7 linked regions of the Homo sapiens genome follow. Changing the gene in region 1 together with any one later gene gives a genetic interaction. Each region holds a gene or a part of one and is shown in the gene's direction. Other genes may lie near its edges. The genes, in order: SLC33A1, RAB1A, VPS51, CARM1, EP300, SAR1A and ACACA.

Region 1 (4,474 bases):
AGATTGATTTGGGTCAATTAAAGGCTTAAGTTCTTTTAAACCTAAAACTTTCAAATTGGTAAATTTGGATTTTTGACCCCGTTTACTATAACACATTGGACTTTTTGAAGTGGAAATTTAGTTGTATTTATAGCCATCTACCATCCCTACCAGTACTGAATTTTCAGTTGTTTTCACTTAATATTATTAGAAAACCATAAGGCAAAATGTACCTCGTATAACTTGACTGTTGTACCAGGTATAATAATATGATGCTCACTTGTAACTGTCATGGGTCAGTAATAAAATTGAGGTTCTTGAAGAACTTACATATGCATGGAGGAAAATATTTCATAAGTCACGAATTAAAATACTTTTTTGTTTTTATATTGCAGATTGGTTTTTCAGCAGCAGATGCTGTAACAGGACTGAAATTGGTAGAAGAGGGAGTACCCAAAGAACATTTAGCCTTATTGGCAGTTCCAATGGTTCCTTTGCAGATAATACTGCCTCTGATTATCAGCAAATACACTGCAGGTCCCCAGCCATTAAACACATTTTACAAAGCCATGCCCTACAGGTAAAAATGAAATAAAACCTTACTAAATAAGAAAGGGTAAAATGAGGAACATTCATCAATACCACTAATATCTGAGCGTAGAATTATATATATGGAAAAAGATTTGAAAAGCATCTTTTTTCAATATTATTTATATGCACTTTTATCTTTTTAACCTCCTAACAGGTTTAGATACAGCTTCTTTCATATGGTAGGCACACGGATTTCTGTTTTTGTTGTTGTTGTTATTTAAGCTAAAATGGAAGTCAACTCAATGTTTCTTTCTCTATAGATTATTGCTTGGGTTAGAATATGCCCTACTGGTTTGGTGGACTCCTAAAGTAGAACATCAAGGGGGATTCCCTATATATTACTATATCGTAGTCCTGCTGAGTTATGCTTTACATCAGGTAAGCTTGCAGTGGTTTTCTCAGGAAATAAACTGTTCTGTGTAAAATAAGGAAGACAGCTTTCTACAGTTGTCTTAAAATAATGATAATAAATTTTAAGCATGAATCTGACACTGAAGAAATTATTGATGGTGCGCTTTAAACTTTATGACTTTTCACTTAATGAGTTCTGCTGTTCATAGAAAGAGACTTTTTTATTTATTTATTTATTTTTTTCCCAAGATGAAGTCTTGCTCTGTCACCCAGGCTGGGGTGCAGTGGTGCAGTCTCGGCTCACTGCAACCTCCACCTCCTAGGTTCAAGCATTTCTCCTGCCTCAGCCTCCTGAGTAGCTAGGATTACAGGCACGTGCCACCACGCCTGGCTAATTTTTGTATTTTTAGTAGAGATAGGGTTCCACTATATTGGCCAGGCTGGTCTTGACTCCTGACTTTGTGATCCACCTGTCTCAGCCTCCCAAAATGCTGGGAATGCAGGTGCAAGCCACTGCGCCCGGCTGAAAGAGACTTTCTTATTCATTCATTCATTAAAAAAAAAATTATTCAACAAGTATTTGTTACATTTTAGAATTGATTCCAAAGCCAGCAAATTCTACTCTTGCTAAATATTTCTCAGTTTATCCCTAGGTTTCAGTTCATTCTTTCTTGAATTCCTAATATCTTTTCTTTCTGAAAGTATTGAGAAATAGTATTGGTCTTAGTTTCTGGCTTAGCTTCTGCTTTTTTTTTTTTTTTTTTTTTTTTTGAGACAGAGTCTGGCTTGCTTGCCCACTGCCCACGCCCGGCTAATTATCTGTATTTTTAGTAGAGACAGAGTTTCACCATATTGGCCAGGCTGGTCTTGAATTCCTGACCTCAAGTGATCCGCCCACCTCGGCCTCCCAAAGTGCTGGGATTACAGGCATGAGCCACCATACCCGGCCCTGGCTTAGCTTCTATATTGAAAGTTTTGACTTATTCTTTATGATTTTGAAAGCTGTGTCAAGCTGCTTTTTCTTTCTTTGTTAAATATGTTTGTAATCCTTAAAAGAAGGAATCCCCACTTTGCTCTAGCCTAAGCTGCTGTTGCAGAATGAGATTTTTTTTTTTTGAGACAGAGTTTTGTTCTTGTTGCCCAGGCTGGAGTGCAATGGCACGATCTCAGGTCACCGCAACCTCCGCCTCCAGGGTTCAAGCAATTCTCCTGCCTCAGCCTCCAAGTAGCTGGGATTACAGGCATGTACCACCATGCCCGGCTCATTTTGTATTTTTTTAGTAGAGACGGGGTTTCTCCATGTTGGTTAGGCTGGTCTAGAACTCCCAACCTCAGGTGATCCACCCGCCTCAGCCTCCCAGAGTGCTGGGATTACAGGCATGAGCCACCGCGCCTGGCCCAGAATGAGATTTTTTTGTTCTGGATGCAAGTGATTCAAGTAAATGGCAAAGGCCCAGAAGTAACCTTTGGGACTTAACTGCAGTTATTGCTAATGCATATTTCTGAGTCACTTTGGATTTTTCTAGCTTATATCCTTTGAAAGTTATATTTGCTAATGTATGAATTAATTTTTAACTGAAACGTAAAAATATGACTACCAGGTAATCTCAGTAGTTTTGTGCATACAGTAAATCATTTAGGAGAAATCTGTAGTGGATCCTGTCAGACTAAATTCTATGCTTATAAAATTATTGAGGCCAAACTGTCAAATATAATTTTTTTTTCTGTTTTGCACATGCTTAGTTAAGGCTAGATATGTAATAGAAGGTTAAAGAAATACTTTAACTAGTCAATGCTTCAGTATTTCTGTCGGTATGTTATAGCCCAAAAAAAGTATTTATTTAGCTTTGGATTTCATTTGAGAATTTCCTGAAGTGTAATCACTGAAACTCAGATAACCAGATGCTTTATGGGGGAAAAAAGGTACAAGACCAAATAAATTCGAGAAATGATGTATGACATAAGCCTTCTGTAAGTAGTGCCTTAATGATTCCTTCAACAAATTTTTTTTTTTTTTTTTTTTTTTTTTTTTTTTTTGAGACAGAGTCTCACTCTGTTGCCCAGGCTGGAGTGCAGTGGCACAATCTCGGCTCACTGTGATACCTCCACCTCCCGGGTTCAAGTGATTCTCCTGCTTCTGCCTCCCAAGTAGCTGGGATTACAGATGAGCACCACCTCACCCAGCTGATTTTTGTATTTTTAGTAGAGACGGGTTTTACCACATTGGCCAGGCTGGTCTTGAACTCCTGACCTCAGGTGATCCGCCCACCTCGGCCTTCCAAAGTGCTGGGATTATAGGTGTGAGCCACCGCACCCAGCTTCTTCAACAAATATTAAGTGAACACCTATTCCCTGCCAGAAACCATTCTGAGTACTGAAATATAACTTAATAAATCATGCCCAAATCCCTGCCCTCAAGGAGTGTATGTTGTAAATATTTCAAAAGGCATACAATGAAAGGAACCTTTTCAATTTTGTGTAAGTTAGTGTCTTTCAGTCTTATTTGACTTTGGAACTCCTTTTTCTGTGAACACCCCCAAAAACACTATTCAAAGGAATACCATTATTGAAACACAGTTTGTTTCCATCTTTCTAAATTAAAGGTTAATTCTTGCCTTTTAAGTACTTTTTGCCTCTTAAGGATGTTTTTCTCCAGTTTGTCACATAAATTTTGAAATACTTTTCTTGTGTATATGTAGGAGAAAAATATATATATTCCTATTTCTTTAAATATTTGAGTATTTATATATGTAATAAATGCATACATATAAATATGTATATATACACATGCAATATATGATACATATTTAGGTACAGTACAAATATGAGGTTTTGCATTTTGCTGTATGCATTATGTATCCTTTAGTGCCACCTCATCTAACATTTTCTCCGTGGAGTCTTTCTTGACTACTTGTGGTAGAATTAATCTCTCATTTATCTTTATGCCCCAGTAACACAATGTGTGCACTTCTATTTACAGTACTTCCTGTATTTATAATTATTTATTCCCCATTTTCCAGCCTAGAATAAATTCTTCAATGTCACAGAAGGACCAAGGTCACATCTTTGTATTGCTGGGATCTTTTTTTTTATTTATTTATTTTTATTTATTTATTTTTTTTGAGACTGAGTCTCCCTCTGTCGCCCAGGCTGGAGTGCAGTGGTGCGATCTCAGCTCACTGCAAGCTCCGCCTCCCGGGTTCACGCCATTCTCCTGCCTCAGCCTCCCAAGTAGCTGGGACTACAGGCGCCTGCCACCACATCCGGCTATTTTTTTTTTTTTTTTGTATTTTTCAGTAGAGACAGGGTTTCACCGTGTTAGCCAGGATGGTCTCGATCTCCTGACCTTGTGATCCGCCCGCCTTGGCCTCCCAAAGTGCTGGAATTACAGGCATGAGCCACCGCGCCCGGCCTGTATTGCTGTGATCTTAAAGCCTGGCCTATAGTAGGTGCTTGATAAGTATTTGTTGAATTGAGTTCAATAAATACCATGAAAATTAATTTCAGGTTTATGACTTTGATGTTCTTAATTTAGACTGTAGCTTTATAAGCT
Region 2 (4,474 bases), on another chromosome or scaffold:
TGCTCTGTCTCCCAGGCTGGAGTGCAGTGGCGCGATTTGAGCTCACTGCAACCTCCGCCTCCTGGGTTCAAGTGATTCTCCTGCCTTAGCCTCCCTAATAGCTGGGATTATATGTGTGTACCACCATGCCCGGACAATTTTTTTTTTTTTGAGATGGAGCCTTGCTTTGTCGCCCAGGCTGGAGTGCAGTGGTGCAATCTTGGCTCGCTGCAGCCTCCGCCTCCCAGGTTCAAGCAGTTCTCTTGCCTCAGCCTCCTGAGTAGCTGGGATTACAGGCGTGCGCCACCACACCCTGCTAATTTTTTGTATTTTTAGTAGAGACAGAGTTTCACCATGTTGGTTAGGCTGGTCTCGAACTCCTGACCTCGTGATCTGCCTGACTCGGCTTCCCAAAGTGCTGGGATTACAGGCATGAGCCACTGTGCCCAGCCTTCCGATAATTTTTGTATTTTTCGTAGAGATGGGATTTCGCCATGTTGGCCAGGCTGGTCTCAAACTCCTTACCTCAAGTGATCCACCCGTCTTGGCCTCCCAAAGTGCTGGGATTACAGGCGTGAGCCACCACGCCTGGGTTTTTGAACATTTTTAAGAAGCTTACCATTTTTTCGAAATAGCTAGTTCCATTTTACACATAACTTCAGCTAGGCATGTTGCCTCATGCCTGTAATCCCAGCACTTTGGGAGGCCGAGGTCAGAGAGTCACTTGAGGCCAGGAGTCAACATAGCTCCTGTGACCAGCCTGGTCAACATAGAGACTCTATCTCTACCAAAAAAAAAAAAAAAAAAGTAACCAGGTGTGGTGGTCCATGCCTGTAGTCCTAGCTCCCCAGGAGACTGAGGTGGGAGGAATGTTTGAGCCCAGGACTTCAAGGCTGCAGTGAGGCAAGATTGCACCATTGCACCCCAGCTTTGGGGACAGAGTGAGAGACCCTGTCTCAAAAACAAAATAAGGCTGGGCGCAGTGGCTGTCCGGGCGTCGTGGTTCACGCTTATAGTCCTAGCACTTTGGGAGGCCAAGGTGGGCAGATTGCCTGAGCTCAGGAGGTCTAAGACCAGCCTGAGCAACATGGCGAAACCTCATCTTTGCAAAACATACAGAAAAAAACAAAAAAAACCACAAAACCTCTAGTTGCCAGTTATTTTTTTTATTTATTCCTAGTGATTCTTCTTTTTTTCTTTTTTCTGAGACAAAAATTTCACTTTGTCTCCCTCGCTAGAGTGCAGCGGTCAGCTCACTACATGATTCTTTTAGAGACATGTTAATTCTTTATATTGAGCTGAAGCCTGTTTCTTTTACTTCTGTCTCTTCTTATTCCTCCGCCTTGTAGAGCTGCCTGAATCAGATTAATTCCTCTTTTATTGGCAAGCCTGCCCTTCAGATTGATCTTATCACAACCTTTCTTCTACCTCTGAAGTCCTCATTCTTTCCTGTAATGATATTTTCAGAACCTTGTGCAATTTGGGTTATTCTTACATTTTATAAATGCCTTTTATTAAATTTGATTTCTTAAATCAAGTATGAGATATAACACATGAGGTAAATCCTGTCTTGATTTGGAGCCTGAATGAATTTCTCTCTTGAACTTCAAGGGCTCATGGCCCTTTCTTATTATTAATCAAAGACAACCATTTGTTGTTTCAGTAGCTATATTATTTCTAGTTTGGGTCTTAAGGTTTTTGATTTGCTTGTTTTTTCTTTTTTCTTTTTTTTTTTTTTTGAGACGGAGTTTCGCTCTTGTTGCCCAGACTGGAGTGCAATGGCGTGATCTCGGCTCACTGCAACCTCCGCCTCCCAGGTTCAAGCGATTCTTCTGCCTCAGCCTCCCTAGTAGCAGGGATTACAGGCATGTGCCACCACGCCGGGCTAATTTTGTATTTTTAGTAGAGATGGGGTTTCTCCATGTTGGTCACGCTGGTCTCGAACTCCCGACCTCAGGTGATCCGCCTGCCTTGGCCTCCCAAAGTGCTGGGATTACAGTCGTGAGCCACGGCGCCTGGCCGATTTGCTTGTTTTTAATTAAAATAGGGGCCTTGGCCAGGTGCAGTTGTTCACCCCTGTAATCCCAGTACTTTGGGAGGCTGAGGCAGGCAGATCTCTTGAGTTCAGGAGTTCAAGACCAGTATGGGCAACATGGTGAAACCCTGTCTCTACCAAAAACACAAAATTCAGCCAGGCATGGTGGTGTGTCCCTGTAGTTCAAGGTACTCAGGAGGCTGAGGTGGGAGGATTGCTTGAGCCCGGAGATGGAGGTTGCGGTGAGCCAAGATTGTGCCATTTGCACTCTAGCCTGGGCAACAGAGCGAGACCTTGTTTCAAAAAAAAAAAAGAAGAGGGTCTCACTTTACACTTCTGTGACTGGTGTTTTAAAAATCTAAACACAGGCCGGGCACGGTGGCTCACGCCTGTAATCCCAGCACTTTGGGAGGCAGAGGCACGCAGATCACAAGGTCAGGAGTTCGTGACCAGCCTGGCCAGCATGGTGAAGCCCATCTCTACTAAAAATACAAAAAAATTAGCTGGGCATGGTGGCAGGTGCCTGTAATCCCAGCTACTTGGGAGGCTGAGACAGGGGAATCACTTGAACCCAGGAGGCGGAGATTGCAGTGAGCCAAGATTGCGCCATTGCACTCCAGCCTGGTGACAGAGCGAGACTCCGTCTGAAAAAAAAAAAAAAAAATCTAAACACAAGATTTTACTTTTAATCCTATCATTTCCTCTTGCTTGGCTTCAGTAATCCTTCAAGTTTTCTAGGTCTTTTCAAAATCTTGATTCTGTTGATTTATATTTTAATTATCTTTTCCTTTCAGCTTTTCCTGTTCAGGTGTGACATCTGGGTCTTTATCTGAGTTTTATTAGATTATAAAACATTCAGCAAGATAGGGCAGGTACTGAGTCCAGTTGTACACCATGGAAGGCCTCTTTCTGTGATTGTTCATTCATGAGGCTTTATGAAAATGTCTACATTACACCAGGCACTTGGAGGTTACAGAGATGAATAAAACATAGTCCATTAGGAGGCAGACAATGGGAGAGACAAACATGGGAAAAAGTTACTCTGATTATGAGGAGTAATGAGAATTACATATGAAGGAAAGTATTGTTAGTACTGTTAGGATTTAGTGTCAGGAAAGTTTTCAGAGTAGCAAGGAAACATCAGAAATTTTACTCTTTCTGCCAGGCATGGTGCATGTATTATTCTGTTCTCACACTGCCACAAGGAACTGACCAAAACTGGGTGATTTATTAAAAAAAAGGTTTAATTGACTCATAGTTCTGCATGGCTGAGGAGGCCTCAGGAAACTTACTGTGGCAGAAAGGGAAGCAGGCACGTCTTACATGGCAGGAGGCGAGAGAGTGTGAAGGAAGTGAAGGGGGAAGAGCCCCTTATGAGACCATCAGATCTTGTGAGAATTCATTCACTATCACTTGAATGGGGGAAACCGTCGTCATAATCCAATCACTTCTCCATAATCCAATCACTTCCCTCAGTGATTACAACTTGAGATGAGATTTGGGTGGGGACACAGAGCCAAACCATATCAGTGCCTGTAGTCCCAGTTACTTGGAGGCTGAGGCAGGAGGAACACTTGAGCCCAGGAGTTCAAGATCTGCCTGGGCAACATAGCAATACCTCCATTTTGGATAAAAAGGAAATTTTACTTTTTGGGTGCCATTGCTTACTTTAATCAGCTGTAACTTCTTGTTGACTTTTAGTCAAAAAACAATTTTTCCTTCTATCTTTGTGAAAGAGGTTGGTGAGCAAGGAAGAAAAGGAAACTTGCTTTATTGAGCAGCTTCTATAGTCAGGCACATTTTACAAACATTAGTTCATTTAAACCCCTTTAGCTGTTGTACAAGGTGAATGCTATCTAGCATTTACAGATGAAGAAACTGTTAGGTGACTCTCCCTAATATTAAATAACCAGGAACCTGGATTTGATGTTTTGAAGTCAGGGTAGCTTGATCCTCGAGTTCATGCTTCCTCCAAGGATACACTGAAAGACTTTGAGCCTCTTTTTTTTTTTTTCTCTTTTTTTGAGACAGGATCTGGCTCTCTTGCCCAGAGTGCAGTGGTGTGATCTCAGCTCACTGCAACCTCTGCCTCCTGGGCTCAAGCGATTCTGCCTCAGCCTCTCGAGTAGCTGGGACCACAGGCGCACGCCAGCATACTTGGCTAATTTTTGGATTTTTAGTAGAGACAGGGTTTCACCATGTTGGTCAGGCTGGTCTCGAACTCCTGAGCTCGTAATCCGCCCGTCTCGGCCCCACAAAGTGCTGGGATTACAGGCGTGAGCCACCGTACCCAGTCCCAACAGTTTTTTAAAACCCAGAACTATAATGCAATAATGTTAGCATTTGTTTTGGGAGTTTGAGCCTAAATGGTTGAAGTGCAGTAAATTGTTCTTAAAATACGTTTTATGAAAGTATTTGGAGTCATCTTCCTTACATTTTTTTCTCTAGGATGAAGACAAC
Region 3 (4,474 bases), on another chromosome or scaffold:
GGTCGGGAAACAGCATAACCAGCAAAGCCCCCTGAGCCTCCTACCAGTTACCACCCAGTCCCCTCCCAAGGTAGCCAACATCCTCGCATCCAGATGGCTTTCACTCTCCCTGGTTACAAACTGCTTTTCTTAACAAGCTTTTTTTTTTTTTTTTTTTTGAGACAGAGTCTTGCTCTGTCATCCAGGCTAGAGTGCAGTGGCCCAATCGGCTCACTGCAACCTCCGCCTCCGGGGTTCAAGTGATTCTCCTGTCTTAGGCTTCCAAGTACCTGGGATTACAGGCACCTGCCACCACACTTGGCTAATTATTGTATTTTCAGTAGAGACGGGATTTCACCATGTTGGTCAGGCAGGTGACCTCAGGTGATCCACCTGCCTTGGCCTCCCAAAGTGCTGGGGTTACAGGCGTGAGCCACTGTGCCCAGCCTGCTTTTCTTAACAAGCTTGAAATGCAAAGATAAACAGTGTAGTCTTTGTGACTGAATGGTGTGGATGCTTTCACTGTTGTTTTTGGATATGGTACAACTTTTATCTCCAGTGTAATGGCTCCATGGCTGGGAAGGCAGCGACAATGACAGCACACAGCACTGTTGGGTTTTCTTTTACTCTATTTTCCTAACAACTTAGTGTTTGGATTTTACCCTTTAGAAGTTGGATTCAAGCTTCCTTCTTGAGGTAGCCCCTAAGTGTCATGGGCTCAAACACCCACTACCAAAAGAGTCTGCTCTTTTCATGGTAGCTTTTGGCAGACCTGGAAGGAGATTGTGTCACATGGCCTGTAAACAAAACCAGTAATTCACTGGGTGAAGACCAAATGCCTCATCAACTGCCAAGCCTCTGTCTGTCTCCCTTAGATCAGTAGCCCATGATCCCTTTACGAACCTCAGCCTCGGCTCTGCTTTTATTGTTTTTCACTGCATAGCGCTGCCTTTGCTATGTCCTTTAGTTCACCATCTATGAATTGGCAAGAAAAATTTTCTTGCCAGGCACAGTGGCTCACTCCTGTGCTCCCAGCACTTTGGGAGGCTGAAGTGGGAGCATTGCTTGAGCCCAGAAGTTTGAGACCAGCCTGGGCAACATAGAGAGACCCCATCTCTACACAAAATTTAAACAAAAATTAAAAAATTAGCCGGGTGTGATGGCGCTTGTGTGTAGTCCCAGCTACTTCAGAAGCTAAGGTAGGAGGATCACTTGAGCCCCAGAGTTCAAGGCTGCAGTAAGCTGTGTTTGCACCACTGCATGCCATCTTGGCTCACTGTAACCTCCGCCTCCCCAGTTAAGGTGATTCTCCTGCCTTAGCCTCCTGAGTAGCTGGGATTATAAGTGTGCATCACCATGCCTGTAGACAGAGCAAGACCCTATCTCAAGCAAAGAAACTCAAAATAATTATGATTTCCCCAACAAAATGCAGGCAATGGTCCCTATGGTCCCAAAAGTAATATAGATGTTTCACATCATGTGATTTTATTCCTTAGTAACCTTCCTTTCTATGAAATCATCTCTAAGAGGGCTAAATGATCCTTTCTTGTGGACTGTGTTGTTAAAATGAAAAGTCCATTTTGCTGATACGTAATCTACCTTTCCATGTAATTTTTTAAAAAATCCCTTAATAGCTCTACAGATGTGAGCCCTGTAGATTCTTTGTCTCAGACAGTTCTTTCTCTTATATTTTCTCTAATATTTTTTTCCTGCATTTTTTGTTTCTGTTTGTTTCTTGTCAAATTGACATCAATGCTTTTCTCCTTACTCACCCTTCCAGCTGTCTCCCCAAGTGGGGTAGATTCCCAGTGTTGCTTGGAGAACATTCCTACAGTCCCAGAGCCACACACAGACCAGGTGTGGGTGTGTGAAGGCTCACAAGTGATTGCAGTTAGATATTTCCAGATTCTTCTTTGTAAATGCTGATCAGTTTGCATAACCACCAGCAAAGAAGAGAATACCTCTTTCAATCTTTGACAATCTGAGAAGTGAAAAGTGGTATCTCTTATTGTTTATAGTAACGTTTACAGGGTGTTTTTTTTTGTTTTTTTTTTTTAGGGCTTTCTATTTATTCAATTATTATTATTTGAGACAGAGTGTTGCTCTATTACTCAGGTTAGAGTGCAGTGGCACAATCTCAGCTCACTACAACTTGTGCCTCCAGGGTTCAAGCGATTCTCCTGCCTCAGCCTTCCCAGTAGCTAGGATTACAGGCACCTGCCACCACGCCCAACTACTTTTTGTATTTTTACTAGAGACAGGGTTTTACCATGTTGGCCAGGCTGGTCTCAAACTCCTGACGTCAAGTGATCTGCCTGCCTCGGCCTCCCAAAGTGCTGGGATTACAGGCATGAGCTACCGTGGCTGGCCTATTTATTTGATTATATCATCTGCAAATAGTGATACTTCTCCCTCCTTTCCAATTTGTGTATCTCCATAATACATCTCGTGACTCTAGCTGAGTTGGCTAATGCCCCAGAACAATGTAGATAACATTGGCAATCAAGGTTGTCCTTGCCATGTTTTGACTTTAATTGGAGTGCTTCTAGCACTGCCTCGGTAAACATGATACTGAGTTTTGGAGGTCAGGGAAATATTTAGCTGCTCATATGTTATTGAGAGTTTTTTAAAAATCAAGAATAGATGTTGAAATATCTATTAACATGGCAAATTATTATGAGATCCTCTAATTTTGAGTCATCCTGGCATTCATGAAACAAAAACCCTTTTGTGTTTATCAATTATTATTTTAATATGCTGCTGGATTTTGTTTGCTTATTTGTGCATCTCCATTTGTTTATTTAATTCATCCTTGCATCTCCATTCATAAGAGATATGAATGTGTATATGTGAGGTATTTCTGTTATGTTTTCATAACAGTGTTATGTTTGTTCCATCAAGTTTGTGTGAGAGCTGTTCTCGTTTCTCTGCTGGGGCAGTGTTTACACAGAGAATTGGAAGGCGCTGTCCTTCAAGCCGCCGCAACACCCCTGGACATCTGGGCCAGATGCCTTTGTGTGGAGGGGAAAGGGGAGTAGGACCTTTCTTTCACAACATTCTCTAGTTTTTCTGTTTCTGTTTTCTTGTTTTTTGCAATCCATTTTGGTAAATCCTATTTTTGTAGCAAATTATCCATTTCATCCATAGAATTCACCAAGCCCTTACCAATTTAGTGTTTTCTTGGTATTTTACCCATGCTGCAATTTCAGTTTTGATTTCCTTTTCTGACCTCATAATTGGTTAACAATGAGGTTTTTTCGACTGGGCACGGTGGCTCCCGCCTGTAATCCCAGCACTTTGGGAGGCCGAGGCGGGTGGATCACTTGAGGTCAGAGACCAGTCTGGCCAACATGGTGAAACCCTCTCTACTAAAAGTACAAAAATTAGCCAGGCATGGTGGCACGTGCCTGTAATCCCAGCTACTCGGGGCTGAGGCAGGAGAATCGCTTGAACCCAGGAGGTGGAGGTTGCAGTGAGCTGAGATCGCGCCACTGCACTGCAGCCTGGGCGACGGAGGGAGACCCTGTCTCAAAAAAAAAAAAAGAATGAGGTTTTTTTCTTTGTGATCTACCATATGGAAAGGTTTGTATATATTTTATGGCATTGTTTGGGAAAAATGCAAACTGTGTGCTTCCTATGCTCTCACATCACCACAATCATGACCACAGAAGAGTTCTGTGACCAAATGTGTTGGGTTTCTTCCCCACACACCAAGCAGCAGACACCCGCTGGGTGTCCTCTGATTTAATTCCAACACTATTTACCCAGAGATAGCATCAGATTCCATGAGTTGAGGGCTGAGTCCCCAAGCCTGCCTCCCTTCAGGCACTAGTTCAGTCCCAAATCTGCCTCCCCACTTTCAGGCACTAGCTGCAGGTCAGGGCCTCAGGCCTCCAGAATTTCTGACCAACTGGCTCCAGGTAGGGGTTTCCATAACTCCCTCTTTGGGCTCAGTTTGCTGGAGTGGCTCACAGAGCTCAGGATAACACATTTACCAGTTTATTACAAAGGATGTTACAAAGGGTACAGATGAGCAGGTGCATAGGGCGAGGTGTAGGAGAAGGAGCATGGAGTTTCCATGCCCTCCCCGGGCGTGCCACCCTCCAGGAGCCTCCAGAGCTGAGATCGCGCCACTGCACTCCAGCCTGGGTGACAGAGTGAGACTCTTTCTCAAACAAAACAAAACCAAAATATCTCCTGTTACAGATACACATTTCTGTCTTATCCTCTTCGCCTTTCTTTATGAACATTGTTGGTATGTTCAATGGAATTAGGGAAATTAGTTGGGAAATGTTGGCAGTTGTTGGACAAGAGATGATAGTGGCTTACAAAGAAAATGTTGCAGGTAGACCTTCCATGACTTGGTAATGGATTGATTACTAGGTATATTAATCCAGGTTCATACTGCTGTAAAGAACTGCCCGAGACTAGGTAACTTATAAAGGAAAGAGGTTTAATTGACTCACAGTTCACAGCATGGCTGGGGAGGCCTCAG
Region 4 (4,474 bases), on another chromosome or scaffold:
GGCACAGTGGCTCACCTCTGTAATCCCAGCACTTTGGGACGCCGAGGCAGACAGAGCGCTTGAGCTCAGGAGCTCAAGACCAGCCTGACCAACATGGTGAAACTCCATCTCTACGAAAACTACAAAAATAAGCTGGACGTGGTGGTGCACACCTGTAGTCCCCCAGCTACTCGGGAGGCTGAGGCAGGAGAATCCCTAGAATCTGGGAGGCAGAGGTCACAGCAAGCCAAAATTGTGCCACTGCATTCCAGGCTGGGTGATGGAGTGAGACTCCATCTCAAAAAATAAATATAATAAAAATAGATACAAAATAATTGTTGTTTCTTTTTTTTTTTTTTTTTTTTTGAGACGGAGTCTTACTCTGTTGCCCAGGCTGGAGTACAGTGGTGTGATCTTGGCTCACTGCAAGCTCCACCTCCCGGGTTCACACCATTCTCCTGCCTCAGCCTCCTGAGTAGCTGGGACTATAGGCACTTGCCACTATGCCCAGCTAATTTTGTTTTGTTTTGTTTTGTTGTATTTTTAGTAGACACAGGGTTTCACTGTGTTAGCCAGCATGGTCTTGATCTCCTGACCTCGTGATCCACCCATCTTGCCCTCCCAAAGTGCTGGGATTACAGGCGTGAGCCACTGTGCCCAGACTTTTTTTTTTTTTTTTTGAGACATGCTCTTATTCTTGTCACCCAGGCTAGAGTGCAGCGTTGCCATCTCTGCTCACTGCAGTGTCAACTTCCTGGGCTCAGGTGATTCTCCCACCTCAGCCTCCCAAGTAATTGGGACTACAGGCGCATGCCACTACACCGACTAATATTTTTATATTTTTAGTAGAGACGGGATTTCACCATGTTGCCCAGGCTGGTCTCAAACTCCTGGGTTCTAGTAATCTGCCTGACTCCCAAAGTACTGGGATTACAGGTGTCAGCCACCATGCCTGACCCTAAAATAGTTTTTTATATATTCTGGACACTAAATACTTAACAATAGATGATTTGCAAATAGTTCTCCTAAGAGTTTTCTTGTTTTAGCTCTTATATTTAGGTCATTGCTCCATTTGAGTTCTGTTTTGTTTGTATATGGTGTGAGGTAGGGGTTTAACTTCATTCTTTTCTCTGTGGTTATCCAGTTTTCTCAACAGTGTTTGTTGAAGACACTATTCTTTCCCCATTGAATGTTCTTGGCATCCTTATCAAAAATCAATTGAGGATAAGTATAAGGGTTTATTTCTGGACTCTGATTCTGTTCCATTGATCTGTGTCTCCTTTCTTTTGCCAGTACCACTACACTGTTTTCATTACTGTACCTTCGTAGTAAAATTTGAAATTGAGACATGGGAATCCTCCAACTTCATTCTTTTTCAAGACTGTTTTGGCTATTCAGGGTGATTGAGAACACTTTGCCATATTTGCACTCATGTTGTTGTTGTTATGATGGGCTATTCAAAAGCAAGCTACTGACATCATGGGAATTTGCCATAAATACTTCCGCATATGTTTTCTAAGAAAATATGCATTTCTCTACAAAACCACAATACCATTGTCACATCCAAATAACTTAAAATTATGGAATATGTAGTCCACACTCACATTTCCCTAGTTGTCTTTTTTTTTTTTTTTAATAGGATCTCACGTCTGTTGCCTAGACTAGAGTGCAGTGGCACCATCATACCTCACTACAGCCTCAACCTCCTGGGCTCAAGCGATCCTCCCACCTCAGCCTCCCAAGTAGCTAGGACCACAGGTGTGAGCCACTCTGTCCAGCTCCCCAGTTGTCCTTTATTTATTTTTTTGAGACAAGGTCTTGCTCTGTCACCCAGGCTGGAATGCAGTGGCACAGTCATGACTCACTGTAGCCTCAGCCTCCTGAGTCCCTAAGACAACAGGCGCATGCCACCATGCCTGCCTAATTTTTAAATTTTTTTGTAGAGATGGGGTCTTGCTATGCTGCCCAGGCTGATCTCCAGCTCCTGGGTTCAAGTGATCCTCCTGCCTTGGCCTCCCAAAGTGCTGGGATTAGAGGTGTGGGCCCAGCCTCCCCAGTTGTCCTGTATAACTTTTAAAAACATTTTTCGTTTGGCTCCAGCCCAGGGTCCCACTTTGCATTGCATTGGGCACTCCCCTCTTTCTTGTCTCCTGCACTCTGGAATAGCTCCCACCGTTTTGGTCTTTCCTGACATTGGCCTGTTCAAGGAGACCAGGCTGGTTGTCCTGTAGCCTGCCCCACAACTTGTCCTTTTCTGTTGTCCCTTGAAGATGAGACTAGGGCAAACATTTTTGCCAAGAATACTACAGATGATGCACCTGTCCCACTGCAGTATGGCAGGCAGGGGCACAGTGCCTGATTGGGCTGGCCCGTTCCTGGCATCGCTAAGTTTCACCATTTGGCTGGAGTGGAGTGGCTGCAGGTTTGTGGAATGAATGACTGGTAACAGCTATCATGATGGGTACAGGGAGACAGTGTCCTAATTCACTAGACCACTGCCCCGCCATTAGCCCCATCTGATGGTGAGAACCCCAGTTCCAGAGAGGCTGAGGGACATGCCTGTGTCACAGTGAACAAATGGCATGGATGGGGTGTGAACCCAGCGGTCTGACTCCACTGGCCACATGCAGTCACTGCTCTGCGCCCATCCAAGAACAGAAGGGCTCAGCCGAGCAGGGCAGAGGCAGCTCCAGCTCTGAGTTCCTGTGGGCCAGCACCATGCCTTGTGGCCCTGTCTGCCCACCTCAGCCTTCACCATGCCCGTCTCAGCCCTGATCATCCTGAGGACACAGGCTGTGTTCCTGCTGTCTGATCAGTCGCTCCCTTGTCTTCCATGTGGGCTGGGCAGTCAGGGCACCCGGCAATGCTGCCAGGGTGGTTTTGTGGCACTCTGGAAGAATCTGGGGGCACCAAGGGGAGGCAGCAGGAGGGCGACAGGGACCCAGGCTCAAAAGAAGGCAGCTGACAGGGCTGCACCGCTCACGCCAGCCTGTCTTCTCTCGTAGATGAAGATGTGTGTGTCTTTAAGTGCTCAGTGTCCCGAGAGACAGAGTGCAGCCGTGTGGGCAAGCAGTCCTTCATCATCACCCTGGGCTGCAACAGCGTCCTCATCCAGTTCGCCACACCCAACGGTACGTGGCCCTCCTTCCATTCCGGTGACACCAGCCCAAAGCGCCCAGAGCCCTGGTGGGCAGGGGCGTAGAGCCTGGCTGAGGGGTGGCCCGTGCATCCTTAAGAAGGCTCCACTGCCCTCAAAACCACATTCCCACATGCAGGTATGCCCAGAATACACTCTGGCCTGGGCAGACCCTGGATCCCAGACCCTCCCTCACCGGCTCCTCCGGGTCTTTTGGGGCTTGGCTTCTATGTCCCCACCTCCAAGAGGCCCATCCTGACCACCTGGGACCAGTCTTTCTGGCAGTGGCCAGCCCTGGGCCAGCTGTGACTGGGCCAGCTGTGGATGGAGTGAGGCGAGGTCCTAGAGGCAGGAAGAGTTTGCTCAGGGCGCAGAGAAGCCACCAGAAGGGCTTAACCAACCCACCTTGGGGGCACAGGTGGACACAAGATTCCTGACTAGGGGTGGGAGAACCCCAGGTGGATGCAGCCAGGGTAGCAGAGAGGTGTCCAGGAATGCCCAGGGCTGGAGATGGTCTGAAGGTCCCACCGCAGGCTTGGTTACCAGAGACCTGAAGTGAGTCCAGTGGTTGACACAGGTGCTGGTGCGAGGACAGCTGGAGGTGGAGAGGCTGCGTGCCCATGAGCCACTGCCGGCCTCCCCCTTGTCTCAAGGTAGCTGTGCAGTGACCCAGATGTACCTTGGGCAGCCTGAGCCCTCGGGGCCAGCTGTGTGAAGCTGCCATGCCTGGCTAATTTTTTGTAGAGATGGGTTTTCACTGTGTTGCCCAGGCTGGTCTTGAACTCCTGGCCTCAAGTGAGCCACCTGCCTCAGCCTCCCAAAGTGCTGGGATTACAGATGTGAGCCACCGTGCCCGGCCCCTTTTTTTTTTTTTTTTTTTTTTTTGAGAAAGAGTGTCACTCTGTTGCCCAGGCTGGAGTTCAGTGGTGCTATCTTAGCTCACTGCAACCTCCACCTCCCGGGTTCAAGGCGATTCTTATGCCTCAGCCTCCCGCGTAGCTGGGACTACACGTGTGTGCCACCGTGCCTGGCTAATTTTTGTGTTTTTAATATAGTAGACATGGAGTTTTTCATATTGCCCAGGCTGGTCTCAAACTCCTGGCCTCAAGTGATCCACCCGCCTCAGCCTCCCAACGTGCTGGGATTACAGGCATGAGCCACTGCACCCGGCCGTTCCCACTCTTAAGACTATTTGTATTTTAATATTTTTTATTTCAGTTCTGTCAGTTTTTAAAAGTTGTGCTAAAATCTACATAACAAAATGTGATCATTTTAACCCTTTTGAAGTGTGTAGGTTGGTAGCAAGCAGCACATTAACATTGTTGTGCAACTGTCACTACCGCCCATCTCCAGAACTTG
Region 5 (4,474 bases), on another chromosome or scaffold:
TGAGCCACATCACCCAGCCAAAAATATATTCTCCCTTTTTTTTTTTTGGACGGAGTTTCAGGCTGGAGTGCAATGGTGCAGTCTCCTGGGTTCAAGTGATGGTCCTACCTCAGCCTCCCGAGTAGCTGGGATTACAGGCATGCACCACCAAGCCAGGCTAATTTTTTCTATTTTTAGTAGAGACGGGGTTTCTCCACATTGGTCAGGCTGGTCTCGAACTCCTGACCTCAGGTGATCCACCTGCCTCGGCCTCCCAAAGTGCTGGGATTACAGGTGTGAGTCACTGCACCTGGCCAAAAATATATTCTTAATTAACAGTATTATGTTATTCATAAATATAGGTTGTCTCATGATACAGACTTGTCTTCCTCAATTTAGTAGTTCAACTAAATAAAGAAGTTTTCCTAAGCAGCCCAGCAAATCATTCTGCAGCAGATACTATTTCCAGTATTTGTAGTTTTGGTCATTTTGAACAAAGCTGTCAGTAAAAGCTGCTGAAATTCCAAGGATGGGTGTGAGGAGGGCATGCTTCATACCACATATTCTGTGATAAGGAGTGGTAGGGGCCATGGCATGCATGATGGTGCTACCACCCTGACGTTGATCCTGGCAGGATAATTGCCACTTGGTTATATAAAGGCAGATAAGCTCCCTGTTTTTGTGGGTAGAAGAAATAGAAAACCGGAAATATTGACTTTAGGCCAGGCCTTTTCACTATTTATTTTTCTAAATACTCCCTGGCTTACGGCTTAGGTATAAAGTCTCTGCCAGCTTTCAAGACATTTTAAGCTTTCATGTTTCTTGTCAGCCATGATTATTCTGTATAATCAATGCTTTAAAAGAACATAGAAATTCCTATATGTACATGCATGTTTTCACAGGATATTTTTAAACAAGCTACTGAAGATAGATTAACAAGTGCAAAGGAATTGCCTTATTTCGAGGGTGATTTCTGGCCCAATGTTCTGGAAGAAAGCATTAAGGAACTGGAACAGGAGGAAGAAGAGAGAAAACGAGAGGAAAACACCAGCAATGAAAGCACAGATGTAAGGGCATTGAGTTTCCTTTGAAACTTCTATCATGATTCTAATATTTAATCCAGAAGTGCACTTAAACTTTCAATTGGGTTTTAAAGCTTTCAGGTGTAAAAGAGCTCTTTAAGTTGGACAAGAAATATTGGCTTAGAGAGGTTATTAGGGTTCTGTTTCAGTGGTATTAAACTTTTAAAGCATCAGAGCCCCTTTTAAAATGGCATCTCAGACTTTGAGTAATGTGAAATGATAAAAGAAACTGAAGGAAATCCTGAAAAACTGATAGAAGATTACTTATCTGAAGGACTAGGTTATGAATATTATAGGCCTTGTGGGTCACATATCTCTGGCATATTTTCTGTCTTTTAAAAACACACTCTTTTTAAATGTAAAAAACCATTCTTAGCTATACAAAATAGGCCTGAGCCAGAATTTAAGTTACTAAGCCTGGCTTAGTAACCTCACCAGTTATTTCCCCATAGCATATCTCGAATTACCTCCATTGAATTTAACTTAACAAAAGGCACCCTTAAATAGTCTGTTAACAAACTCTTACAGCCTTGTCATTTAGTATTTGTAGGCTCATAACATTTTAGAATATGAGTGGAAGGAAATAAAACCAAGGTCTTCTGGCTCCCCACTTTGATACACTCTTCACTACCCCAAAGTGCCACCCCTTCCTTGTTCCCTAGCCCCAATCTGGGATACATTCAATCAATCTACAGGGTCTGCACATTCTGTGGCCTCTTCTAGGCAAAAAGCTAAAGGGCTGCCATTGCCTTAAAGATCACTGGGAGAAAATTAGGTCAAATAACAACTTTAAGGAGAAAGAATAAGTGAAGAGAACAGCTAGTAAAATAAGTTACAGGCATAAGATTATGATATCTAGTTTCAAAGAAGGGAGATATTCTGTGCTATTCCCAAATTACTTAACAAAAACCTTATTTTCTTGTCTCCTTTGTGCTACTCTGCAGGTGACCAAGGGAGACAGCAAAAATGCTAAAAAGAAGAATAATAAGAAAACCAGCAAAAATAAGAGCAGCCTGAGTAGGGGCAACAAGAAGAAACCCGGGATGCCCAATGTATCTAACGACCTCTCACAGAAACTATATGCCACCATGGAGAAGCATAAAGAGGTAAGATGCAGCCACCCAGAGTTGGGGAAAAACGGCAAGATTTCTGGCCAGGCATGGTGGCTCACACCTGTAATCCCAGCACTTTGGGAGGCCAAGGCGGGTGGATCACCTGAGGTCAGGAGTTCAAGACCAGCCTGACCAACACGGTGAAACCTTGCTCTACTAAAAATACAAAATTAGCTGGGCATGGTGGCACATGCCTGTAATCCCAGCTACTCAGGAGGCTGAGGCAGGAGAATTGCTTGAACCTGAGAAGCGGAGATTGCAGTGAGCCGAGGTCACTCCATTGCACTCCAGCCTGGGCAACAAGAGCGAAACTCCACCTCAGAAAAAGAAATAAGAAATGAATAAAAACACTGACTGTTCGCTGGGCGTGGTGGCTCATGCCTGTAATCCCAGCACTTTGGAGGTTGAGGCAGGCGGATCACTTGAGGTCAGGAGTTGGAGACCAGCCTGGCCAACATGGCGAACCGAAACCCCGTCTCTACTAAAAATACAAAAATTAGCCTGGCGTGGTGGCACACACCTGTAATCCTTGGGATGCTGGGGTGGGAGGATCACTTGAACCTGGGAGGCAGAGGTTGCAGTGCACTTACAGCCTGGGTGACAGAACGAGACTCTGTTTCAAAAAATAAAAAGATTTAACCTTTCTGAAAGTGAATTAGTAAATAGAATTGGAGAAAAGTTAAACTTCCACATATGGACTTACAACCCCCTTCTCAAAACTTTTTGAGTTATTTCATCATTTACATTGTTTAGTTGTTCTTGCAGTCATTTGGGAAAATAACTGGGTAAGGTTTTTTTTTTCTCTCTTTAATATCATATAATTGATAACGAAAGCCAGGAGAATTGAAGAGTAATTCCTCTCAGGGTTTGTCCAATGGTAGTAATCTCGATTGTTCAGTCAGACTCCTCATTTTACTATCTCGGTTCTCAGACATATAATCAAGTTCTTATAGGAAGTGGTAATTAAGTTGAGAGGGAAATGAAGGCTTGATTTCAGGTTGTAATTCCGTACCTAAAAATTGGTTAAACAGTCTCTTTGGGAGAGAAATAGTTAACAAAATCTTTTTTAGAGAGGAATTTGTTATAATGATGTTATCATGGTGAACACCTATATACATAGGTGTTCAAAGTATCTTTTCCCCCACTGCTCCCCCCATCACCACCCCTTTTTTGTTAGCCTAGAATAATGGGCTACGATGTAATAATGGTAATAACCATTATCTCAGCCATGCTAGTGAAATGGAAGGATTCCTGAGTTCTAATACGTTAGGTAATGATTATTAACAATTAATAGTTACTAGCTATTTCAAGCAGTAAGTAATGCCACAGAATCCTAGGCAGTTGGGAAAAGCCCTTAGAATATATTGTAATAGGTTTGACTTAAATTGTGGACACATTCCATGGCTGTTTAAATTTAGGTTGTAAATCCAAGTATTGGCCTGGTTGTAGGGTGACAGAAGCAGCGAACATTGCTGGCCAGAGACTGTGAGTGTGGCTGCCAGTGTGCACAGATGTTGAATAATCTGTTATCAGTACAGCAGTTTCTCACAAGTTCCTAATTTCTTAAGGGGATGTTTTACATTTTATTACTTTAATAGGTGTTTATAGTTATATACTAATTAATGTCAAATACATATGTAATACCAGCTTTTTATACCTTTTACACTAATGGTTATGAGAATTGATGGTTGTTACAAGTTTTTTCAAACTTCAATGAACAAGAATTTTATTGCTTTGTCAACAAAGACTAAGATTTTTTATCCATTCCATTCCCTTCCAAACCTGTAGGAAAAGTTACACAGGAAAGTTGCATAGGGGACCTTCATGAGTCCAGGCCAGTTGTTTTTCATACTGTCTCCATATTTGGATTTGTCTGGTTTGTTGTAATTAGATTGAGGTTAAACCATGGATTGCATCTTAAAGTAGACTGCCTTGAGGCAAAATGTCCACTGTGCATGGTGCTATACCTCACCCAGACCATTGTTACTCTGAAGGAGTTACTGAATGAAGGAGAAAAAAATCACAGGATGTGCATTTCAGTTCTATTTATAGTCAGTCTCAAGAGACCAAAGAGGTAAAGCAGGAAAAGGAACAGGAGGCGTATGGTGGTGAAACTAACTCAGCATTCGCCAGTCTCATTGGTGCTCAGCCTGCTGTACCTGCTCACACCTGTAATCCCAGCACTCTGGGAGGCTGAGGCAGGCAGATCACTTGAGCTTAGGAGTTTGAGACCAGCCTGGGCAACATGGCGAAGCCTCGTCTCTACAAAAAATGCAGAAATTAGCCAGGTGTGGTGGTGTG
Region 6 (4,406 bases), on another chromosome or scaffold:
CTGCCCTCAGCCTCCTGAGTAGCTGGAACTACAGGCGGGTACCACCACACTCAACTTCTTGTATCTTTTTCTTTACAAGATGAAAGCATTGATATTGGCTTATAGTACTAGTAGTTGGGGGTTGTTGAGTTGACAAGTTTTTTTCTTCTTTTTAAACAATTTTTCAGCATCAGAAGAGCTAACAATTGCTGGAATGACCTTTACAACTTTTGATCTTGGTGGGCACGAGCAAGGTAAGTGATGACTCAGTGGAAAGCATGTTTATTGACTTATTTTTTTTGTGCCTCCCAGCTCCTTTTAAAAGCAGTGTGTCATTTTTACCTTTTAAATTACTTACATTTTAGAATTAGGATCTTATTACTTTAGTGAAGTTGTTTTATTCATTTATTTTTTTAAGTAATTTCAAACTTGTCAAAAGTTGCATTAAATAATACACAGAAGTCCCCTTCAATATTACCCTATTGAGCTGGGATAAAGTTAGCCATAATGTATAACTATTCATGAACTTTTAAGTATTTGCCTGATATAGCCAAACTCAACTCAAATCTTGACTGAAAATTTTTACAAAGCAGGACAGCATCTTGCCATTTTAATCTTTACTACATTTTTACTTATTAATGTAATTTACCTTGTAACTGGAAAATATGTTAAAAGATATATGTATTGCTTCAACAAGAGTAATTATTTCATCATTTTAACTAGGCTTGCCCTAAGCCAGTATATTTTCTTCTATACCTTTTGCTCAAATTTGTTAGTCTCCTCCTCCCTACATAATACATATTAATGCTTATTTTTTATGAACTGTTTGTGAGCATATCATGCCCCTTTACTCTTTAATACTTTAGTGCCTCTTCTTTATATAATACATATTAATGCTTGTTTTTAATGAAGTGTTGGTGAGCATATCATGCCCCTTTACTCTTTAATACTTTAGTGCCATTTTCTAAGAACAAAGATATTTCCTTGTATATAATCATAATAGTTATCAAATCCAGGAAGTTTTATTTTTATCCACTCTGTATTTCCTTTTTTTTTTGGTCAGTTGTCCTGATAATCTCTTTTATACCATTTTTTTCATCTTGACCAGGTATACGGTATCATATATCTAGTTATGAAGTCATTTTTGCATCCTTTATTCAATGGAGTGAAAGTATGTAGGAAATTAAATATTTATAAGTAATTTCAGACTTGTCAAAAGTTGCAAAAGTAATACAGTGACTATGTGTGATTACTCTGATACAAGTTGATATTTTGTATATTCTATCCATTTCAGACAGTTGGTGGAACATTTCCTTCTACCTTTTTGCTTTCCTCAGAAGTGCTTTTTGCCTACTCAGGCTATGTCTTTGGTTTCCAGATTCCTATCAGGTGTTTAGAGACATACAGAGTGTCATCTTTGTCTGATGGGCACTCAGTTCACATTTGACAAGACCGTAGGTATAGGAGTAAAACATTTAAGATGTGAGAATAAATATTCTGGGAAAGTAGGGAAAAGGAACTATTGAGATTCTGTCAGATTTACTTACTTGTTATTACACTGAGTGGAGAAGTCTTGTTTTGAAACATTAGGTTGAGCTAATACCGTTTTTTTCTTTTTTTTGAGATGGGGTCTTGCTCTGTTGCCCAGGCTGGAGTGCAGTGGCACAATTTTGGCATACTGCAACCTCTACTTCCTGGGCTCAAGCAATCCTCCCACCTGTTTTTTGTAGAGACTGGGTTTCCGCCATGTTGCCCAGGCTGGTCTTCAACTCCTGAGCTCAGGTGATCCACCTGCCTCAGCCTCCCAAAGTGCTGGGATTATGGGCGTGAGCCACTGTGCCCAGCCTAATACAGTTTTTAAAAAATGTATAGTAAAATATAACATTGGTCATTTCTAGTTGTTAAGCCTAATAATTTTATAGTCAGTGATTTCATTAACATATAATTACATTTTAATTAATTTATTTAATATTTATGCCCTGAAAAATCATGTATATTATGATCATAATCACATAAAATACCAGTAAAGAAAAGAGGCTGGAAGAAAATATCAAAATATTGACAAGGGGTGTGTTTTGATAGAGGGATTAGAAATGATTTTGTTTCCTTTTTTTCTGTAAGGAGCTTGTATTTTTTTCATTTGGGTAAGAATGGGTATATGGTGTCCTTTCTGCTGCTTCCACAAAAGGATTTGTAACTGCTTACAAATTTAAATTCAGAGCAAGATAAGACTGAACCTAGACCATCTGGAGAATGTAGAAGGACCAGACGCCAGATGGTTTTATATACCTGAACTGGGAATTGTAGATTGTTTGGTGTGATAAATTTAGGTTTCAGGTTTTGTTAAAAGTAAGAAGGGAAATGTATTGATGTAATTAGTTTTGTTTATTTGACTGAGGAAAATCTACTTAACAAAAACACTTTTACATAATAACCTAGCCACCATTTTATAAAAGTTACTAAAGTACTGTACATCTGGAGGTTTCCTTTTTTTTTTTTTGTATAACTTAAAAATTTTAACTTATAAAAGGAGAGCAAGTTCGATGTAACAAAATCAGTATAGAACTACGGAAAGTAAAATGGAAAGTTCCTTCAACCTCTTTTTCCTAGCTCCACTCTTTAAAGGTAACCATTATTAACTGATGTAGAGATGGTTCGTTATTCATTCTATTGCAAGGGCTAGAAATTAATGGCTTAGAAATGATAGTACAATTAAATCACTGCTTCCCAGCCTTTATCGTTTCATGTCACAAGCAAAAAACCAAGTAATATTTATAAGGCATGCTGGGTTAAATATGGTAGGTTGAGATAACTGGCCTGGGGCCTTGAACCACTTGTCAGGCCTAGTCTCCCTAAGGGCTGAGCAGAGGAATGTGTCAAGACGCCTACACACAAGTTGGCTAGAAACTAACTGGGACTAAAGTTACATGGACAAGTAATTTGTATCCTGATGTTTTAACTCAGAGGTTGCAAACTAGACTTGGCCCCAGGGGCAAGGCAAGTCATTTAAGTGAGTAAAATTGGCTGACTGTAAGACAGCAGGGAAATTTTGTCAAGCAAAAGTGTTCAGACATCATCTGAAGGGGCAGCCACTGCTTAGTTCCTGCTGATAATTGTCACGTGGATAAGTAGGCATGGGATTGCCAGATGTTGCAGTTTTTCAAAAAAAGCGGAAACTCTGATTTTCAAATTTACAAAAATCAGGTTCAGCTCATGGACCATCAGTTTGCATCCTCTGTTCTGAATTAATACTGGCCAGAACTTGGAGAAATCCATAGAGTCTAATCTTACTGAAACCCGACCAAGATTTGTCCATTTTATAGACCATTAGGTTATTCATTTTCACAATGTATATTTTTTACTCATGCAACTACAAACTTTGTTTTTTAGCACGTCGCGTTTGGAAAAATTATCTCCCAGCAATTAATGGGATTGTCTTTCTGGTGGACTGTGCAGATCATTCTCGCCTCGTGGAATCCAAAGTTGAGCTTAATGTATGTTTTGTCCTTTAATGTGTATTTTAATGTATATTTTGTTCTTTTTTGGCCTCTATTTTTTTTTAAGGAATATAGCTCAGTAGTGCCAATAATTAGTCATTCCAGTTAACATTTGGCAAAAAGACCTAGTTGCAGGAGGAAAATGTTTTAAATCTAAGACATTGCTTTTCAATGTCCTGAGGAAACTCAGCTCAAACTTAAATAAATTAACTGTTGTTTCTATCATACAGTGATTATATGGCCAAGTTTGCTCAGGATACTCCTCATTTATGCCTGTTGTCCCAGCATAATTAATAGTATTCTGTTTCACGTGTCATGAACAGTAATTCTGTTTTTTTTTTTTTTTTTTTTTTTTTTTTGACGGAGTCTTGCTCTGTTGCCCAGGTTGGAGTGCAGTGGCGCAATCTTGGCTTACTGCAACCTCCACCTCCTGGGTTCGAGGGATTCTTCTGCTTCAGCCTCCCGAGTAGCTGGGACTACAGGCACGTGCCACCACGCCCGGCTAGTTTTTTGTATTTTTAGTAGCGACGGAGTTTCACCATGTTAGTCAGGTTGGTCTTGATCTCCTGACCTCATGATCCACCCGCCTTGGCCTCCCAAAGTGCTGGGATTACAGGCATGAGCCACCGCGCCTGGCCCATGAACAGTAATTCTTTATAAGTAGTGTTGGCATAGTGAAAGCCTAAAAGCGATATTAGAGTTCTTTACATTTTTGAATCTGCATTCTCAGCTTGTGCCTACCCACCCTCCCACTGAATGACTTGCCAGACCTTCATGGTCTGTTCTCAGTCTTCAGTTTTGGTTGCATACATCCTTTGATACTATTAAGGACTCACTTCAAGTTTTCTCCTTTGTCAACATTGCATTTTCTCATGGCTTGATGGTTTCTATACTATTGGCTTTGTTATCCCTACTCCTTTACCCTATATC
Region 7 (4,474 bases), on another chromosome or scaffold:
AGGACATATCTGTGTCTTTGTCATTGAAACTCAAATTTTGAGACTGGCTAAGGCAAATATCCAGATCTGGATGTCATGATTGTCAACAATGAATATCAGTAATCAGTGTTGTAATACTGTAGAAAAATTAGTCCCACATAATACTGAGATCTAGTCGTTAAAAACATAGCATTCAGGGGCCAGGCACAGTGGCTCATTCCTGTAATCCCAGCAGTTTGGGAGGCCAAGGCAGATGGATCATTTGAGGCCAGTAGTTCAAGATCAGCCTGGGCAACATGGCGAAAACCCATCTCTGCTAAAAATGCAACAATTAGCTGGGTGTGGTGGCGCATGCCTGTAATCCCAGCTTCTTGGGAGGCGCAAGAATTGCTTGAACCCTGGAGGTGGAGGTTGCAGTGAGCTGAAATCGCACCACTGCCCTCCAGCCTGTTCAACAGAGCAAGAGTCTGTCTCAAAAACAAAAAAACAAAAATCATAGCATTCAACTACCTGGAAATTACCCTCTCCCTTCAGTTGATGTTAGGCTCTACTTAGACCAATTTAGTCAGTGTGCTTAAGAAAGATGTGGAGAGGGCAGGACACGGTGCCTCACACCTGGGATCCCTGCATTTTGGGAAGCCAAGGTAGGCAGATCACTTGAGTTCAGGAGTTCAAGGAGGCATGAGAACTGGGCAACATGGTGAAACTTCGTCTCTACAAAAATTGCAAAAATTAGCCAGGTGTAGTGGCGCATGCCTGTAGTCCCAGCTACTTAGGAGGCTGAGGTGAGAGGATCACTTCAGCCCAGAGGGTTGAGGCTGCATTGACCCAGTATCACACCACTGCACTCCAGCCTAGGTGACAGAGTGAGACACTGTACCAAAAAAAAAAAAAAAAAAAAAGATGTGGCAAAATTAACATGCACAGTGAGAAGAAGGGTAACACTGATTACTGATTAAGGCAGTACTCCTCTGGGTTTTTGTCTTAAGTGGATGTGATAGTGGCATCACTTACACGACCAGCTGAAGGAAGAATAGATTTGGAGGAGAAATTGAAAGTTCTGTTTTGGATCTGTGTTTTGCATTCTGACTGGAAATGACAAATACAAGTCTACAGCTCATTGGAGGTGTCAGAACTAAAACTGTATAACTGTATTAGAATTGTTTATTTGGCTGTGTGTCTTACCTAGACAGACCTTGAGGACAGACACTGTTGTCTTTGTAACCTCAGTGCTCTGAAGTGTATCCTCAAATACTTGTGAAATGAGTAAGTAAAGGCAAAAGTAAAAATGAAGTCACTGGCTGGGTGCAGTGGCTCACGCCTGTAATCCCAGCACTTTGGGAGGCTGAGGCGGGCGGATCACGAGGTCAGGAGATCGAGACCATCCTGGCTAACATGGTGAAACCCCATCTCAACTAAAAATACAAAAAATTAGCCGGGCGTGGTGGTGGGCGCCTGTAGTCCCAGCTACTCAGGAGGCTGAGGAAGAAGAATGGCGTGAACCTGGGAGGTGGAGCTTGCAGTGAGCTGAGATCGTGCCGCTGTACTCCAGCCTGGGCAACAGAGCGAGACTCTGTCTCAAAAAAAAAAAGAATGAAGTCACTTAGGCAAAATGTAGAAGATACATACTCTATGCTTTCACTGAAAGTCTAAGCACCTGAATGTGACTTACAAGTAGGGTGACCATAATTTCTGATTTGCTGAGAATAGCCTGGTTTATATCTGTTGTCCCTACCTAAGTATTAATATTGCCTGGTTTCACTCTCAGTAAAGTCTCCATTTGTACAATAAATTTATATTGTCATTCTTTTTAGAAGGCCCTTCCAGATCTAGCATCTTCCTATATCTTTATCATCACTGCCCTATCTTAGACTCCATTTGCCAGCCAGGTGGACATACCTTCATTTCTCATATGCACTCTTAACTTCAAGGTTTTTTTTGCCAAGGTACTGCCTACCTCACTTAGACATCACTTCCTTAGGAACACTTCTCCTGACCCCCCAATGGCTGAGTTAAGTCACCCTCTTACATGTTCCCAGTACACCTTGTATTTAACCTGTCATAGCAAAGATGACTAAGTGCCTTGTTCCCTCACTAAATATCTCTGTAAAGGAACCCAAAAAAACACCTTTTGTCCTCTTTAAGCCATAAATTTATATTAATAATATCCAAATCCATGTTGAACCAGTATTTTTGAAGATTGACCTTCAGGATAAACTAATAGCACAATCTTCATGCCCTTTCATTCATAAGTAACTGAAAAGGTTGACTTTTGTACCAGGAACCCAACGAAGAAAACTTGTATCTTGTCAGGGTTGGTAACCTGGCTGCCATTGACTGAGACCAAAATATCCCAACAGTTTGTCCTCAGCTGCTAAGCTGCTGTGGTTAGAATCAAACGTAGAGTTTCTGGCCTGGTGCGGTGGCTCATGCCTGTAATCCCAACACTTTGACAGTCCTAGGTGGGAAGATTGCTTGGGCTCAGGAGTTCGAGACTAAACTGGGTGACTTAGTGAGAGTTCAACTCTACAAAAAAATCAAAAAATTAGCTGGGCATGATAGCACACGCCTGTGGTCCCAGCTACTTGGGAGGCTGAGGTAGGAGAATCACTTGAGCTCAGACAGTTGAGGCTGTAGTGACCGTGATTGTGCCACTTTACTCCAGCCTGGGCAACAGAGTGAGACCTCGTCTGGAAAAAAAAAAAAAAAGGTAAAGAGACAACCTACGGAATGGGAGAAAATATTCACGACCCCTACATCAGATAAGTGGACAAGGGCCTGAAAAGACATTGCTCAAAAGAAGACATGCAAGTAGCATGGGAGGCCGAGGCGGGTGGATCACCTGAGGTCAGGAGTTCGAGACCAGCCGGGCCAACCTGGTGAAACCCTGTCTCTACTAAAAAAACAAAAATTAGCTGGGCGTGGTGGCGGGCGCTTGTATTCCCAGCTACTCAGGAGGCTGAGGCAGGAGAATCACTTGAACCCAGGAGGCGGAGGTTGCAGTGAGCCAAGATCACACCATTGCCCTCCAGCCTGGGCAACAGCAAGACTCTGTCTCAAAAAAAAAAAAAAAAGAAAAACAAAAGAAAAAGACATGCAAATAGCTAACTGGTATGTGAAAAAAATGTTCAACATCACTAATCATCAGGGAAATGTGAATTAAAACTACCATGAGATATCACCTCACACCTGTCAGAATGATTATTATCAAAAAGCGAGATAAGCATTGGCAAGGATGTGGAGAAAAACCCTGTACACTGTCAGTGGGAATGTAAATTAGTACAGCCATTTTGGAAAATAGTATGGAGGTTCCTTAAAAATTTTTGAATGGAACTACCATATGATCCAATAATCCACTTCTGGGTATATATCCAAAGGAAATGATATCTGCATGTCAAGGTATCTGTACTCCCATATCCATTGCAGCATTATTCACCATAGCCAAGACATGGAAACAGCCTACATGTATGCCAATGGATGAATGAATAAAGAAAATGTGAGATATAGATACACACACACACACACACACAGACACACACACAATGGAATACTGTTCAGCCTTAAAAAATAAGGAAATCCTGTCATTTGCAGCAACATAGATGGACCTGGAGGACATTATGCTAAGTGAAATAAGCCAGGCACAGAAAAACAAATACTGCTTAATCTCACTTATGTGTGGCATCTAAAAAAGTCAAGCTTGTAGAAGTAGCAGAATGGTGGTTACCAGGGGATGAGAGAGAAAGAATTGGAAGATTTTGGCCAAAGGATACAAAATTTCAGTTAGACAGCAGGAATAAGTGCAGGAGATCTATTATACTATATGGTGACTATAGTTAAAAATATATACTTGAGGCCAGGCACTGTGGCTCACACCTGTAATCCCAGCACTTTGGGAGGCTGAGGCAGGTGGGTCATCTGAGGTCAGGGGTTTGAGACCAGCCTGGCCCACATGGTGAAACCCCATCTCTACTAAAAATACAAAAATTAGCCAGGCGTGGTGGTGCATGCCTGTAATCCCAACTACTCAGGAGGCTGAGGCATGAGAATCACTTGAACCCGGGAGGCAGAGGTTGCAGTGAGCCAAGATTGCATCACTGCACTCCAGCCTGGGCAACAGAGCAAGACCCTGTCTCAAAAACAAAAACAAACAAACAAACAAAAATATATATATGCTTGAAAATTGCTAAGAGAGTAGATTTTAGTTGTTCTTACCACACAAAAAAATAAGTATTTGCGGTAATGGGTATATATTTGAGGTAATGGATTTGTTAATTAGCTTGATTTAGCCATTCCACAATGAGTACATCTATCAACACATGTTGTACATCATGAATATACACAATTTTTATTTGCCAAAAAATGTTTAAATATGCCATAAGTAAATTAAATAAAATAAATTTCTTAGAACATTATTTATAAAAATAAAGCAAAAAACCAGATCTGTCCAAATATAACTAATAAACTGACTCTCATTATTTAACACTCAAGAGTTGGC

Evidence for each region.
Region 2: changes in SLC33A1 (region 1) and RAB1A together harm fitness more than expected from each alone (negative genetic interaction), as found in Homo sapiens cells (one large-scale study listed by BioGRID).
Region 3: changes in SLC33A1 (region 1) and VPS51 together harm fitness more than expected from each alone (negative genetic interaction), as found in Homo sapiens cells (one large-scale study listed by BioGRID).
Region 4: changes in SLC33A1 (region 1) and CARM1 together harm fitness more than expected from each alone (negative genetic interaction), as found in Homo sapiens cells (one large-scale study listed by BioGRID).
Region 5: changes in SLC33A1 (region 1) and EP300 together harm fitness more than expected from each alone (negative genetic interaction), as found in Homo sapiens cells (one large-scale study listed by BioGRID).
Region 6: changes in SLC33A1 (region 1) and SAR1A together harm fitness less than expected from each alone (positive genetic interaction), as found in Homo sapiens cells (one large-scale study listed by BioGRID).
Region 7: changes in SLC33A1 (region 1) and ACACA together harm fitness more than expected from each alone (negative genetic interaction), as found in Homo sapiens cells (one large-scale study listed by BioGRID).

Annotation. Positions count from the first base shown.
Region 1 is NC_000003.12:155,829,942-155,834,415, reverse strand, and holds part of SLC33A1 (acetyl-coenzyme A transporter 1), read left to right. Parts: intron 1-374; coding exon 375-559; intron 560-830; coding exon 831-948; intron 949-4,474. UniProt on the Homo sapiens protein: Acetyl-CoA transporter that mediates active acetyl-CoA import through the endoplasmic reticulum (ER) membrane into the ER lumen where specific ER-based acetyl-CoA:lysine acetyltransferases are responsible for the acetylation of ER-based protein substrates, such as BACE1.
Region 2 is NC_000002.12:65,091,829-65,096,302, reverse strand, and holds part of RAB1A (ras-related protein Rab-1A), read left to right. Parts: intron 1-4,474. UniProt on the Homo sapiens protein: The small GTPases Rab are key regulators of intracellular membrane trafficking, from the formation of transport vesicles to their fusion with membranes.
Region 3 is NC_000011.10:65,101,880-65,106,353, forward strand, and holds part of VPS51 (vacuolar protein sorting-associated protein 51 homolog), read left to right. Parts: intron 1-4,474. UniProt on the Homo sapiens protein: Acts as a component of the GARP complex that is involved in retrograde transport from early and late endosomes to the trans-Golgi network (TGN).
Region 4 is NC_000019.10:10,901,967-10,906,440, forward strand, and holds part of CARM1 (histone-arginine methyltransferase CARM1), read left to right. Parts: intron 1-2,984; coding exon 2,985-3,110; intron 3,111-4,474. UniProt on the Homo sapiens protein: Methylates (mono- and asymmetric dimethylation) the guanidino nitrogens of arginyl residues in several proteins involved in DNA packaging, transcription regulation, pre-mRNA splicing, and mRNA stability.
Region 5 is NC_000022.11:41,171,618-41,176,091, forward strand, and holds part of EP300 (histone acetyltransferase p300), read left to right. Parts: intron 1-881; coding exon 882-1,046; intron 1,047-2,005; coding exon 2,006-2,167; intron 2,168-4,474. UniProt on the Homo sapiens protein: Functions as a histone acetyltransferase and regulates transcription via chromatin remodeling. Acetylates all four core histones in nucleosomes. Histone acetylation gives an epigenetic tag for transcriptional activation.
Region 6 is NC_000010.11:70,156,831-70,161,236, reverse strand, and holds part of SAR1A (small COPII coat GTPase SAR1A), read left to right. Parts: intron 1-167; coding exon 168-233; intron 234-3,369; coding exon 3,370-3,473; intron 3,474-4,406. UniProt on the Homo sapiens protein: Small GTPase that cycles between an active GTP-bound and an inactive GDP-bound state and mainly functions in vesicle-mediated endoplasmic reticulum (ER) to Golgi transport.
Region 7 is NC_000017.11:37,399,776-37,404,249, reverse strand, and holds part of ACACA (acetyl-CoA carboxylase 1), read left to right. Parts: intron 1-4,474. UniProt on the Homo sapiens protein: Cytosolic enzyme that catalyzes the carboxylation of acetyl-CoA to malonyl-CoA, the first and rate-limiting step of de novo fatty acid biosynthesis.